Linked DNA regions of Homo sapiens. The protein of the gene in region 1 interacts with the protein of each later gene in a pairwise test. Each region holds a gene or a part of one and is shown in the gene's direction. Other genes may lie near its edges.

Region 1 (4,086 bases):
TCCCTCTAGAGGCTGCCTGGGCCTGTTCACGTGTTTTCCATCCCACATAAATACAGTATTCCCACTCTTATCTTACAACTCCCCCACCGCCCACTCTCCACCTCACTAGCTCCCCAATCCCTGACCCTTTGAGGCCCCCAGTGATCTCGACTCCCCCCTGGCCACAGACCCCCAGGGCATTGTGTTCACTGTACTCTGTGGGCAAGGATGGGTCCAGAAGACCCCACTTCAGGCACTAAGAGGGGCTGGACCTGGCGGCAGGAAGCCAAAGAGACTGGGCCTAGGCCAGGAGTTCCCAAATGTGAGGGGCGAGAAACAAGACAAGCTCCTCCCTTGAGAATTCCCTGTGGATTTTTAAAACAGATATTATTTTTATTATTATTGTGACAAAATGTTGATAAATGGATATTAAATAGAATAAGTCATAGTCTCTCTCTTTATTGGGGCTCAGGGGACACTCTCAGGGTAGCTGGGGGCCACGTGAAGGGGGGCGTTGCGGAGCGGCACAGCTGGAACTCCGGGATGATGTTCAGGCTTGGGGGCGGGGACCTCCATGCCTCCAGCCCCCAGGTGGGAGCAGAGGTAGGAAGGCACACTGCCCAGGAAAAAAATCAATCCTCCGCCCAAGGTACAGCAGAAGCGGCCTCCTTGGCCTAGGAGGCAGACTTCCTCCTGCGGGGAAATCCCTTCCTGGCTGGGAGGAGCAGGGGCCCTTCCTCTTGGTGGCCTCGGACATTCAGCAGGTGCTGGCACAGGCCCTGGCTGGGAGGTGGGGCGGGCAGGAGCCAGCCTGGAGGAGGGGCTGAGAGTCAGCAGGCACACGGGAACCCGGAACCCTGTGTGCTGGGGAGGAATCCCGCAGTGGCCGGGGGGCTTGAGGCCGCTGCTTTGTCTCTTCGTCCAGAGCCTTATGTAAGAGCTTTTCTCGGGAAACAGGAAGTCCTGCTTGCCAATTTCAGCACAGGGAGTAGTGCAGGCCTTATTCCAACACACCCGGCCCAGCCTTAACCCCAGAACTCAGCCAGTTTCTTGCTTCCGTGCCCCTGGTTCTCCTCCCCATCGAGCCCACCCCTCCTTTCCCACCTTCAGTCACCCCTAGTGAACTGCCCCAGCGATCTCTGCTGTGCTTGACCCCGAGGGTCTTCCACCCTCGCCCTGACCCTGGACACTGCCCAGCTTGGCCCCCCATCCTGCTCCTGGCACAATGCCCTCTAGCCAGCCAACCTTCCCTCCCCCAACCCTGGGGCCGCCCCAGGGTTCCTGCGCACTGCCTGTTCCTCCTGGGTGTCACTGGCAGCCCTGTCCTTCCTAGAGGGACTGGAACCTAATTCTCCTGAGGCTGAGGGAGGGTGGAGGGTCTCAAGGCAACGCTGGCCCCACGACGGAGTGCCAGGAGCACTAACAGTACCCTTAGCTTGCTTTCCTCCTCCCTCCTTTTTATTTTCAAGTTCCTTTTTATTTCTCCTTGCGTAACAACCTTCTTCCCTTCTGCACCACTGCCCGTACCCTTACCCGCCCCGCCACCTCCTTGCTACCCCACTCTTGAAACCACAGCTGTTGGCAGGGTCCCCAGCTCATGCCAGCCTCATCTCCTTTCTTGCTAGCCCCCAAAGGGCCTCCAGGCAACATGGGGGGCCCAGTCAGAGAGCCGGCACTCTCAGTTGCCCTCTGGTTGAGTTGGGGGGCAGCTCTGGGGGCCGTGGCTTGTGCCATGGCTCTGCTGACCCAACAAACAGAGCTGCAGAGCCTCAGGAGAGAGGTGAGCCGGCTGCAGGGGACAGGAGGCCCCTCCCAGAATGGGGAAGGGTATCCCTGGCAGAGTCTCCCGGAGCAGGTGAGTGAGGGGAGGAGGGTGTCTGGGAGAGGATGGTTAGCATGGGGGGTCTCTGGGCCTCCTGGTCTGCAAAGTTTCAAGGGGGTGCAAGAGAGGGTCTCCGGTTTGGAAGTCAGGGGCGCGGCCATTCCAGGAAAGGAAACTGTTAAAGGTTAATGCTTCTCATACCTAACAAATCCTGGAGGGCAGCCAGCACCAACACTCAGGGTGCTGGGAAAAGGTGCGTGAGAGATCTGAGGCATCTCGGGGGCAGGGGAGGGCTGGGAAGGCAGGCTGGCTGGGACCCTCGCATCTTAACCTAACCTTGACCCTCTTTCCATGAGCAGAGTTCCGATGCCCTGGAAGCCTGGGAGAATGGGGAGAGATCCCGGAAAAGGAGAGCAGTGCTCACCCAAAAACAGAAGAGTGAGGCTTCCAGGGTGCAGCAGGGGTGGGAGGTGATCAAGCAGCGTGGGGATTGTAAGCCCGAGTCAGGGTGAGGGTGGAGGCTGCCAACAGCACAACGGGGGAAAGTGGATGCGGCTGAGATTCCCTCCTTCTCTCCTCAGAGCAGCACTCTGTCCTGCACCTGGTTCCCATTAACGCCACCTCCAAGGGTGAGCACTATTTTAAATAATGGCTTTGGGGAGGGGCAATAACCAGGAACTCGGGCTGGCACTTGGGCTCAAGGGGTCCTTATAGGTGAAAGGGAAAGAACCAAAAAGCACCTGAGAGTGCCAAGAAGTCCTGACCGACACACTCTCACCTCCAGATGACTCCGATGTGACAGAGGTGATGTGGCAACCAGCTCTTAGGCGTGGGAGAGGCCTACAGGCCCAAGGATATGGTGTCCGAATCCAGGATGCTGGAGTTTATCTGCTGTATAGCCAGGTAACCCCAGCCACACTCTGAGCTTCACAGAGGGCCTCTTTGGCCCCCTACTGAGGGTTCCTGACCCCTCTATTCATACCAAACCCAGCAGACCCTTCTTTCTTCCCTCGTTAGCGCTCCTGAGGCCTCCCAGAACTGAGCCAGGCCATCCTGTTTTCTTCAACATCTCCCTTCCCTGCCAGGTCCTGTTTCAAGACGTGACTTTCACCATGGGTCAGGTGGTGTCTCGAGAAGGCCAAGGAAGGCAGGAGACTCTATTCCGATGTATAAGAAGTATGCCCTCCCACCCGGACCGGGCCTACAACAGCTGCTATAGCGCAGGTGAGAGCCGTGTGGGCAGCCGAAAGCAGGACGTCTCTGACCGGGGGTAGCAGTGCAGGGAGCTACCGCTAGGAGGGAGGTTGGAAACCTAAACAGAGGCGGGTCTGAGGAGTGAAGTGCAGAATGCCGGGTCCTTACAGGAGGCAGAGGAACGGTGGAGCTGGAGAAGGCAGGGGGAAACAGGGCATCTGGATGGCTGTGCTTCACTGCGAATCTACTTTCTCTCTTTTCTCAGGTGTCTTCCATTTACACCAAGGGGATATTCTGAGTGTCATAATTCCCCGGGCAAGGGCGAAACTTAACCTCTCTCCACATGGAACCTTCCTGGGGTTTGTGAAACTGTGATTGTGTTATAAAAAGTGGCTCCCAGCTTGGAAGACCAGGGTGGGTACATACTGGAGACAGCCAAGAGCTGAGTATATAAAGGAGAGGGAATGTGCAGGAACAGAGGCGTCTTCCTGGGTTTGGCTCCCCGTTCCTCACTTTTCCCTTTTCATTCCCACCCCCTAGACTTTGATTTTACGGATATCTTGCTTCTGTTCCCCATGGAGCTCCGAATTCTTGCGTGTGTGTAGATGAGGGGCGGGGGACGGGCGCCAGGCATTGTCCAGACCTGGTCGGGGCCCACTGGAAGCATCCAGAACAGCACCACCATCTAGCGGCCGCTCGAGGGAAGCACCCGCCGGTTGGCCGAAGTCCACGAAGCCGCCCTCTGCTAGGGAAAACCCCTGGTTCTCCATGCCACACCTCTCTCCAGGTGCCCTCTGCCTCTTCACCCCACAAGAAGCCTTATCCTACGTCCTTCTCTCCATCTATCGGACCCCAGTTTCCATCACTATCTCCAGAGATGTAGCTATTATGCGCCCGTCTACAGGGGGTGCCCGACGATGACGGTGCCTTCGCAGTCAAATTACTCTTCGGGTCCCAAGGTTTGGCTTTCACGCGCTCCATTGCCCCGGCGTGGCAGGCCATTCCAAGCCCTTCCGGGCTGGAACTGGTGTCGGAGGAGCCTCGGGTGTATCGTACGCCCTGGTGTTGGTGTTGCCTCACTCCTCTGAGCT
Region 2 (3,500 bases), on another chromosome or scaffold:
ATTTATTGTAATTGTAGATACTGGACTGATTCTCAGATATAATTGTTTTACAGACAGGAACTGGACTGAGCTTTGACATGGCTAGCTTGATAAATAATCCAGCCTTCATTAGTATGGTGAGTATACTTTCTTTTCTGCCTCTACTGGCTATGTTTTCCATAGACTATGTAGCTATGCAATTTTTTTTAGAAACAAGTGAGTTTTTGTGGTGGTGGTTGTAGTGGAGTATTGATATAAGGCTATAGCAGGGTTCTGTTTTTTTATTTCCAACTTTTATTTCAAGTGCAGGGGTAAATGTGCAGGATGTGCAGGTTTGTTACATAGGTAAAACGTCTGCCATGGTAGTTTGCTGCACAGATCCTCCCATTACCCAGGTATTAAGCCCAGCATCTATTAGCTGTTCTTCGTGATCCTTCCTCTCCTCCCATCCTCTGCCCTCCAACAGGCCCCAGTGTGTGTTGTTCCCCTACATGTGTCATTGTGTTCTCATCATTTGGCTCCCACTTGTAAGTGAGAACATGTGTTATTTGGTTTTCTTTTCCTGTGTTAGTTTGTTAAGTAAAATGGTAAAATGGCCTCCAGCTCCATCCATGTCCCTGCGAGGGACATAATCTTATTTCTTGTTTTGGCTGCATAGCATTCCATGGTGTATATGTACCGCATTTTCTTTATCCAGTCTATCATTGATAGGCATTTGCATTGATTCCATGTCTTTGCTATTGTGAATAGTGCTGCAGTGAACATACGTACGAATGTGTATTTACAGTAGAAAGATTTCTATTCCTTCGGGTATATACCCAGTAATGGGATTGCTGGGTCGAATGGTATTTCTGCTTCTAGGTCTTTGAGGAATCACCACACTGTCTTCCACAATGGTTGAACTAATTTACATTTCCACCAACAGTGTTAAAAGCATTCCTTTTTCTCCACAACTTCGCCAGCATCTGTTGGTTTTTGTTTTTTTTGTTGTTGTTGTTGTTTGTTTGTTTTTTGAGACAGAGTTTCACTCTTGTCACCCAGTCTGGAGTGCAATGGTGTGATCTTGGCTCACTGCAACCTCCACCTCCTGGGTTCAAGCGAATCTCCTGCCTCAGCCTCCTGAGTAGCTGGGATTATAGGCACCCACAACCATGCCTGGCTAATTATTGTATTGTCAGTAGAGATGGGGTTTCACCATGCTGACCAGGCTAGTCAAATGACCTCTGGTGATCCGCCTGCCTCAGCCTCCCAAAGTGCTGGGATTACGGGCATGAGCCACCACACCTGGCCTGTTTTTGAGTTTTTAATTATAGTTGTTCTGACTTGTGTGAGATGGTATCTCATTGTGGTTTTGATTTGCATTTCTCTAATGATCAATGATGTTGAGCTGTTTTTTCATATGTTTGTTGGCCACATATATGTCTTCTTTTGAGAATTGTCTGTTCATTTCCTTTGCCCACTTTATAATGGGGTTGTTTTTTTCTTGTAAATTTGTTTAAGTTCTTATAGATGTAGGATATTAGACCTTTGTCAGATAGATAGATTGCAAAAATGTTCTCCCATTCTGTAGGTTGTCTGTTTACTCTGTTGATTGTTTCTTTTGGTGTGGAAAAGAAACTCTTTAGTTTAATTAGATCCCATTTGTCAATTTTTTCTTTTGTTGCAATTGCTTTTGGCATCTTCATCATGAAATCTTTGCCTGTGTCTATGTCCTGAATGATATTGCCTCGGTTTATAGAGTTCTTATAGTTTTGAGTTGCACATTTAAGTCTTTAATCCATCTTGAGTTGATTTTTGTATATATATGGTATAACGAAGGGGTCCAGTTTCAATTTTCTCCATATGGCTAGCCAATTCTCTCAGCAACACTTATTAAATAGGGAATCCTTTCCCCATTGCTTTTGCCAGGTTTGTCAAAGATCAGATGGTTGTGAGTGTGCAGTCTTATTTCTGGGTTCTCTGTTCTGTTCCACTGGTCTATGTGTCTGTTCTTGTACCAGTACCATGCAGTTTTGGTTATTGTAGCCCTGTAGTACAGTTTGAAATTGGGTAGCATGATGCCTCAGCTTTGTTCTTTTTGTTTAGGATTGCCTTGGATGTTTGGGCTCTTTTTTGGTTCCATATGAATTTTAAAATAGTTTTTTCTAATTCTGTGAAGAATGTCAATGGTAGTTTAATGGGAATAGCATTGAATCTATAAATTGCTTTAGGCAATATGGCCATTTTCACGATTTTGATTCTTCTATCCATGAGCATGGAGTGTTTTTCCACTTGTTTCTGTTCTCTCTTATTTCCTTGAGCAGTGGTTTGTAGTTCTCCTTGAAGAGTTCCTTCACTTTGCCTGTTAGCTGTATTTCTAGATATTTTATTCTTTTTATGGCAATTGTGAATGCGAGTTCATTTGTGATTTGACTTTCGACTTGCCTGTTGTTGGTATGTAGGAATGCTAGCAATTTTTGCACATTGATTTTGTATCCTGAGACTGTGCTGAAGTTGCTTATCAGCTTAATAAACTTCTCGACTGAGACAATAGGGTTTTCTAGATATAGGATCCTGTCATCTGCATATAGGGATAATTTGACTTCCTCTCTTCCTATTTGAATATGCTTTATTTCTTTATTGTGCTTCATTTCCCTGGCCAAAACTTCCAATACTATTAATTTGTTGAATAGGAGTGATGAGAGAGGGTATTTTGTCTTGTGCTGGTTTTCAAGGGGAACACTTCCAGCTTTTGCCCATTCAGTATGATATTGGCTGTAGGTTTGTCATATATGGCTTTTATTATTTTGAGGTATGTTCCTTCAATATCTAGTTTATTAAGAGTTTCTTATATGAAAGGATGTTGAATTTTCTTGAAGGCCTCTTCAGCATCTATTGAGATAATCATGGGGTTTTTGTCTTTAGTTCTGTTTATGAGATGAATCACATTTATTGATTTGCATATGTAGAAACAGCCTTGCATCTTGGGGATGAAGCCTCCGTGATTGTGATGGGTAAGCTTTTTGATGTGCTGCTTGGATTCAGTTTGCCAGTATTTTGCTGAGGATTTTTGTATCAATGTTCATCAAGGATATTGGCCTGAAGTTTTCTTTTTTGTTATTGTATCTCTGCCAGGTTTTGGTATCAGGATGATGTTGGCCTCATAGAATGAATTAGGGAGGAGATCCTCCTTTTCAATTTTTTAGAATAGTTTCTGTAGGAACGGTACCAGCTCTTCTTTGTACCTCTGGTAGAATTCAGCTGTGAATTCGTCTGGTCCTGGGCTTTTTTTTTTTTTTTTGGTTGGTAGGCTATTTATTAGTGCCTCAATTTCAGAACTCATTATTGGTTTATTCAGGGATTCAATTTCTTCCTGGTTCAGTCTTGGGAGGATGTATGTGTCCAGGAATTTATCAAGTTCTTCTAGAAATTCATTAGTAAAATTTCTAGTTTATGCGCATAGGACTGTTTATACTATTCTTTGATGGTTGTTTGTATTTCTGTGGGGTCAGTGGTAATATCATTTTTGATTGTGTTTGTTT
Region 3 (3,500 bases), on another chromosome or scaffold:
GAGACCACACACAAAACACAAAACCACGAAAGGCAGGGGAGACTAGGCTGTGGTCCGTGAGTGGTGGATAGTGAGACAGGCTGTAAAAGGTGTGATTACGTAAATGCTATCTGCATTGTTCTTGTAGGTATTAAAACCAGAAAGCTGGCCGGGTGTGGTGGCTCATGCCTGTAATCCCAGCACTTTGGGAGGCCAAGGCAGGCTGATCGCTGGAGGTCAGGAGTTCAAGACCAGCCTGGCCAATATGGTGAAACCCCATCTCTATTAAAAACACAAAAATGAGCCTGGCATGGTGGTGCATGCCTGTAATCCCAGCTACTCAAGAGGCTGAGGCAGGAGAATCACTTGAACCCAAAGGCGGAGGTTGCAGTGAGTCGAGATCGCACCACTGCCCTCCAGCCTGGGCGACAGAGCAAGACTCTGTCTCAAAAAAAAAAGAAAACAGAAAAGCAAGGGAGACATGAATGAAATGTGTTCACCCATAGCGTTGCCTAAGTGTGTGTATATGGATTGATAAAGCAATCCTGCTGTATCAGAAGCATTGACCACTAGGATCCCTTCCAATGTTTAGACTCCATGCCTCTGGTTTTGTTGGCGAAGCGTGCTGAAGTTAGTGACACTGAGCATCAGCGCTGTCCGGATGTTACTATTGCAAGTTTCCTAGCTTATCATGAGCATGGGTCACCGTTGTCATTGCGGCTTGTACTTGGGGAGGGCCACGGTGCACTATTGTGGCCTGACATGGCTGCACTGCTGCAGGAAGACCGTGTAACACAGAGCCTGGGGGCCACCTTCTGCCCAGCTGGACTCCCCACTGCTGCACAGCCCAGGACTGTGGGAAATGAGCATGAAGCATTCCTAAAATAATTAGAAGCTTCTGTTTTCTTACATCTGGGCCCATGTGAACCCACAGATATAGCATGGGACACAGAGTATAGGCAGCAGGCCACGGGCCGTGGGGTCTGAGACCACACTGCGGACAAGCAGGTGGACCCCGAGGCCCAGAGTCTCCCCGACCCCAGCACCAGCCTGTTTGCTTTGGAGCCTGGCTCTGCCCTGCAGCAGTGCTCAGCCTGAGGAATTCCAGACTCCCCACCACTTTGGCCTTGTCGTTTCTAAGAAAGAGCTGGCCGCTGCAAGCTTGGACTGGCATCCTTTTCTGAGGATGTAGCTTTTCAACAGGGTCCAGGAGGAATCACTCCCTTGGGCTCTCCGGGGAAAAAAGCTTAATAAAGATGTCTCTCATTCTCTCATCCTCTTTGTCTTGTTACTCTTGTTTCAGATGTAGTTGCCCATTCAAATACTCTATTTCTGTTTCAGGAATATGTGTCTGGGAAGGAAGGCAGTTGACAGTTGTTGGAAATGAAAACCTAGTTTGCTTGAGATATTTCCTGCACGTCCCCTTGGCTGTGTGTTTGCAGCCCTGCTGGGAAAAGGTGGTGGGGGAGAGTTGTTTTGAGCTGGGAACATCAGCCTGGATTCTAAACTTAGGCCAGCCTGGCCCCAATTTTATATCGACTCTGTCCACCCTGTTTGCAGTCCTGATGGGAAAGAAAGTCTGGCTGGTATTCTCTCTTGTCTGAATATGCCTGAGCCGTGTTCCTTTCATCTCCTGAAGTAGTTGGAAGTGATGGTTGCCGTGTCTGGGCTGTTTAATGTCCAGGGCAGTCAGTGTCTCAGGGGTGAGAGGTTTTCTCCCTTACCAGTTACCTTCCAGCCCATAACGTTGGTTTCTGACTCTGATCCCCTTAACTTCTGCAAGATTCATGAAACTCTTTCTTAGCCATCAGATAGTAACCCAGAATTGAATAGTTTGGTGCTAGAGGGAAGGGAAGAGGGAAGGATCAAAGCCCAGGAAAGACTGGGAGCAGAGCACAGAGGCCCAGGGGGAAAAGGCCAAGTGGATGCCTGTAGGGAGAGGAGGAGGCTGTGATCGAGAAGGGCATGCATGAGGGAAGGAAGAGCTGGGAGACTGCCAGGTAATTCTCAGCCTGGATATTGTGAGCCGAGAGAGAGGAGGAGGCTGTAAGACCCAAGAAAGAGACAGCAGAGGGAGGAAAGAGTGGGATGGAGGGTACTGTCAGGAGAGAAGGCCAGGAGCAAACCTAAGTTCTTCCCTGCTCATGGCAGGCTCAGGAATCAGCTAGAGTTAAAGCTTACCCGGGGCTGCCAAGGGCTCAGGTGAATGCAGGGTGGACGCCGTCCTTGAAGTTCTAAGAATTTCAAGGAGATGCAAGGGTGGAGGATGTACCAGGCGGGGTTGAGTGGAGCTGGGAATCCTGTCACCCAGCATAGAGTGGGTGGGGGGCATGGGCTCACAGGTGTTGCCAAGCAGAATGTGGCAGGCTCAGCTCTGCTGAGATGAAGCTGAGAGCCCACGGGTGTGAGTGGTGCCCTGGGAGCAGCGCCCCTGGGGAAGACAGAGAGGAGGGACCTCGGGTCTGAGGAAGCTGGGAAGCAAGGCCGGGAAGGGGTCTGGTGCTGAGACCAGTTGGGGAACAAGTGTGAGACCTTGGAGGTGGCGCATGGTGGCTCAAAAGCTTGTGTGGAGGCAGAGGGGATGAGGGGGAGGGAGAAGGATGGGAGACATTGTCACTGTGGATTCTGATGTTGCAGGAATTGGGGTCAAAGAAGGAAAAAATGAGAGCCGGGGAGTAGTCAACCAGGAGGGCGCTGGCGGGTCTGGGGAGGGTGCGGAGTGTAGAAGCTGGAATAGGACTTTGTGGTGAGGGGTTAGAATGGGTGGGTTTAGGGAATGGCCAGGTGATGACATCAGCAGCCTGGAAGGGCAGCGGCCAGCCACCCTGTCCACGACTGAGCCTCGGCTCTCCTGAGGCTAGGTAAGACTCCCCTTTATGGGACGCAGTGTCAGGGCCCAGAAGAAGCACTTCAGAGCAGCACCTTTGCCTCTGTTTCAGGATCGCTGGTGACACAGCCCTCAACAAAAACATCCACGAGTCCGTCAGCGCCCAGATCCGGAAAAACTTTGCCAAGAGCAAATGGAGAGTAAGTGTGGAGTATATGAAATTCCCCGTGGATTAACCCCCTCGTGACACTGGCCCTCCAATCTGAGCATTTCTGAAATCCCCAGAACCTCACCTGAATAATTTTGCTAATTTTAACTGCAAGTAATAAAGACTCAGAGGGAATATTATGGTGTAAGAGGGATGGAGTGTGCAATTCAACACTTCCCCTCTGTGATCAAAGACAGCAATAGTGCCAGCTCTTCCTCATCTGCTGTTTCTTAACCAACATCACCCTTGTCTTTCTTCACCTTGCTAGAACTTTGAATAGCTGACTTTTATTAAAGCGATATGGAGGGGGAAAAAACAGGAAATCTGAGTTGTACTCATCAATGTTTCCTGATAAAAGTTTGACAGATTTAAACCATGGAGGTTTTGTGATCATCTGTTGATTACCTGACTTCCTAATCTCTTGATTACCTGACCTCCCCTCCGTGTTCCAATCAGCAATGGCAATTCAGAGCTAGCTATTTTGCC

The links. Proteins that work in one complex are often made in the same cells at the same time.
Region 2: the proteins of TNFSF13 (region 1) and SGTB interact in binary tests that used the Homo sapiens proteins (3 or more experiments, as listed by UniProt).
Region 3: the proteins of TNFSF13 (region 1) and CAMK1D interact in a two-hybrid assay, tested with the Homo sapiens proteins (one large-scale study listed by BioGRID and IntAct).

The regions. Positions count from the first base shown.
Region 1 is NC_000017.11:7,557,464-7,561,549, forward strand, and holds the start of TNFSF13 (tumor necrosis factor ligand superfamily member 13 isoform alpha precursor), read left to right. Parts: upstream 1-1,286; 5' UTR 1,287-1,576; coding exon 1,577-1,834; intron 1,835-2,160; coding exon 2,161-2,239; intron 2,240-2,382; coding exon 2,383-2,430; intron 2,431-2,585; coding exon 2,586-2,704; intron 2,705-2,886; coding exon 2,887-3,025; intron 3,026-3,260; coding exon 3,261-3,370; 3' UTR 3,371-3,535; coding exon of another isoform or gene 3,536-3,542; 3' UTR 3,543-4,086. Other genes in the region: TNFSF12-TNFSF13 protein, read left to right, coding at 2,161-2,239, 2,383-2,430, 2,586-2,704, 2,887-3,025, 3,261-3,370. UniProt on the Homo sapiens protein: Cytokine that binds to TNFRSF13B/TACI and to TNFRSF17/BCMA. Plays a role in the regulation of tumor cell growth. May be involved in monocyte/macrophage-mediated immunological processes.
Region 2 is NC_000005.10:65,677,110-65,680,609, reverse strand, and holds part of SGTB (small glutamine-rich tetratricopeptide repeat-containing protein beta), read left to right. Parts: intron 1-53; coding exon 54-116; intron 117-3,500. UniProt on the Homo sapiens protein: Co-chaperone that binds directly to HSC70 and HSP70 and regulates their ATPase activity.
Region 3 is NC_000010.11:12,821,547-12,825,046, forward strand, and holds part of CAMK1D (calcium/calmodulin-dependent protein kinase type 1D), read left to right. Parts: intron 1-2,918; coding exon 2,919-3,006; intron 3,007-3,500. UniProt on the Homo sapiens protein: Calcium/calmodulin-dependent protein kinase that operates in the calcium-triggered CaMKK-CaMK1 signaling cascade and, upon calcium influx, activates CREB-dependent gene transcription, regulates calcium-mediated granulocyte function and respiratory burst and promotes basal dendritic growth of hippocampal neurons.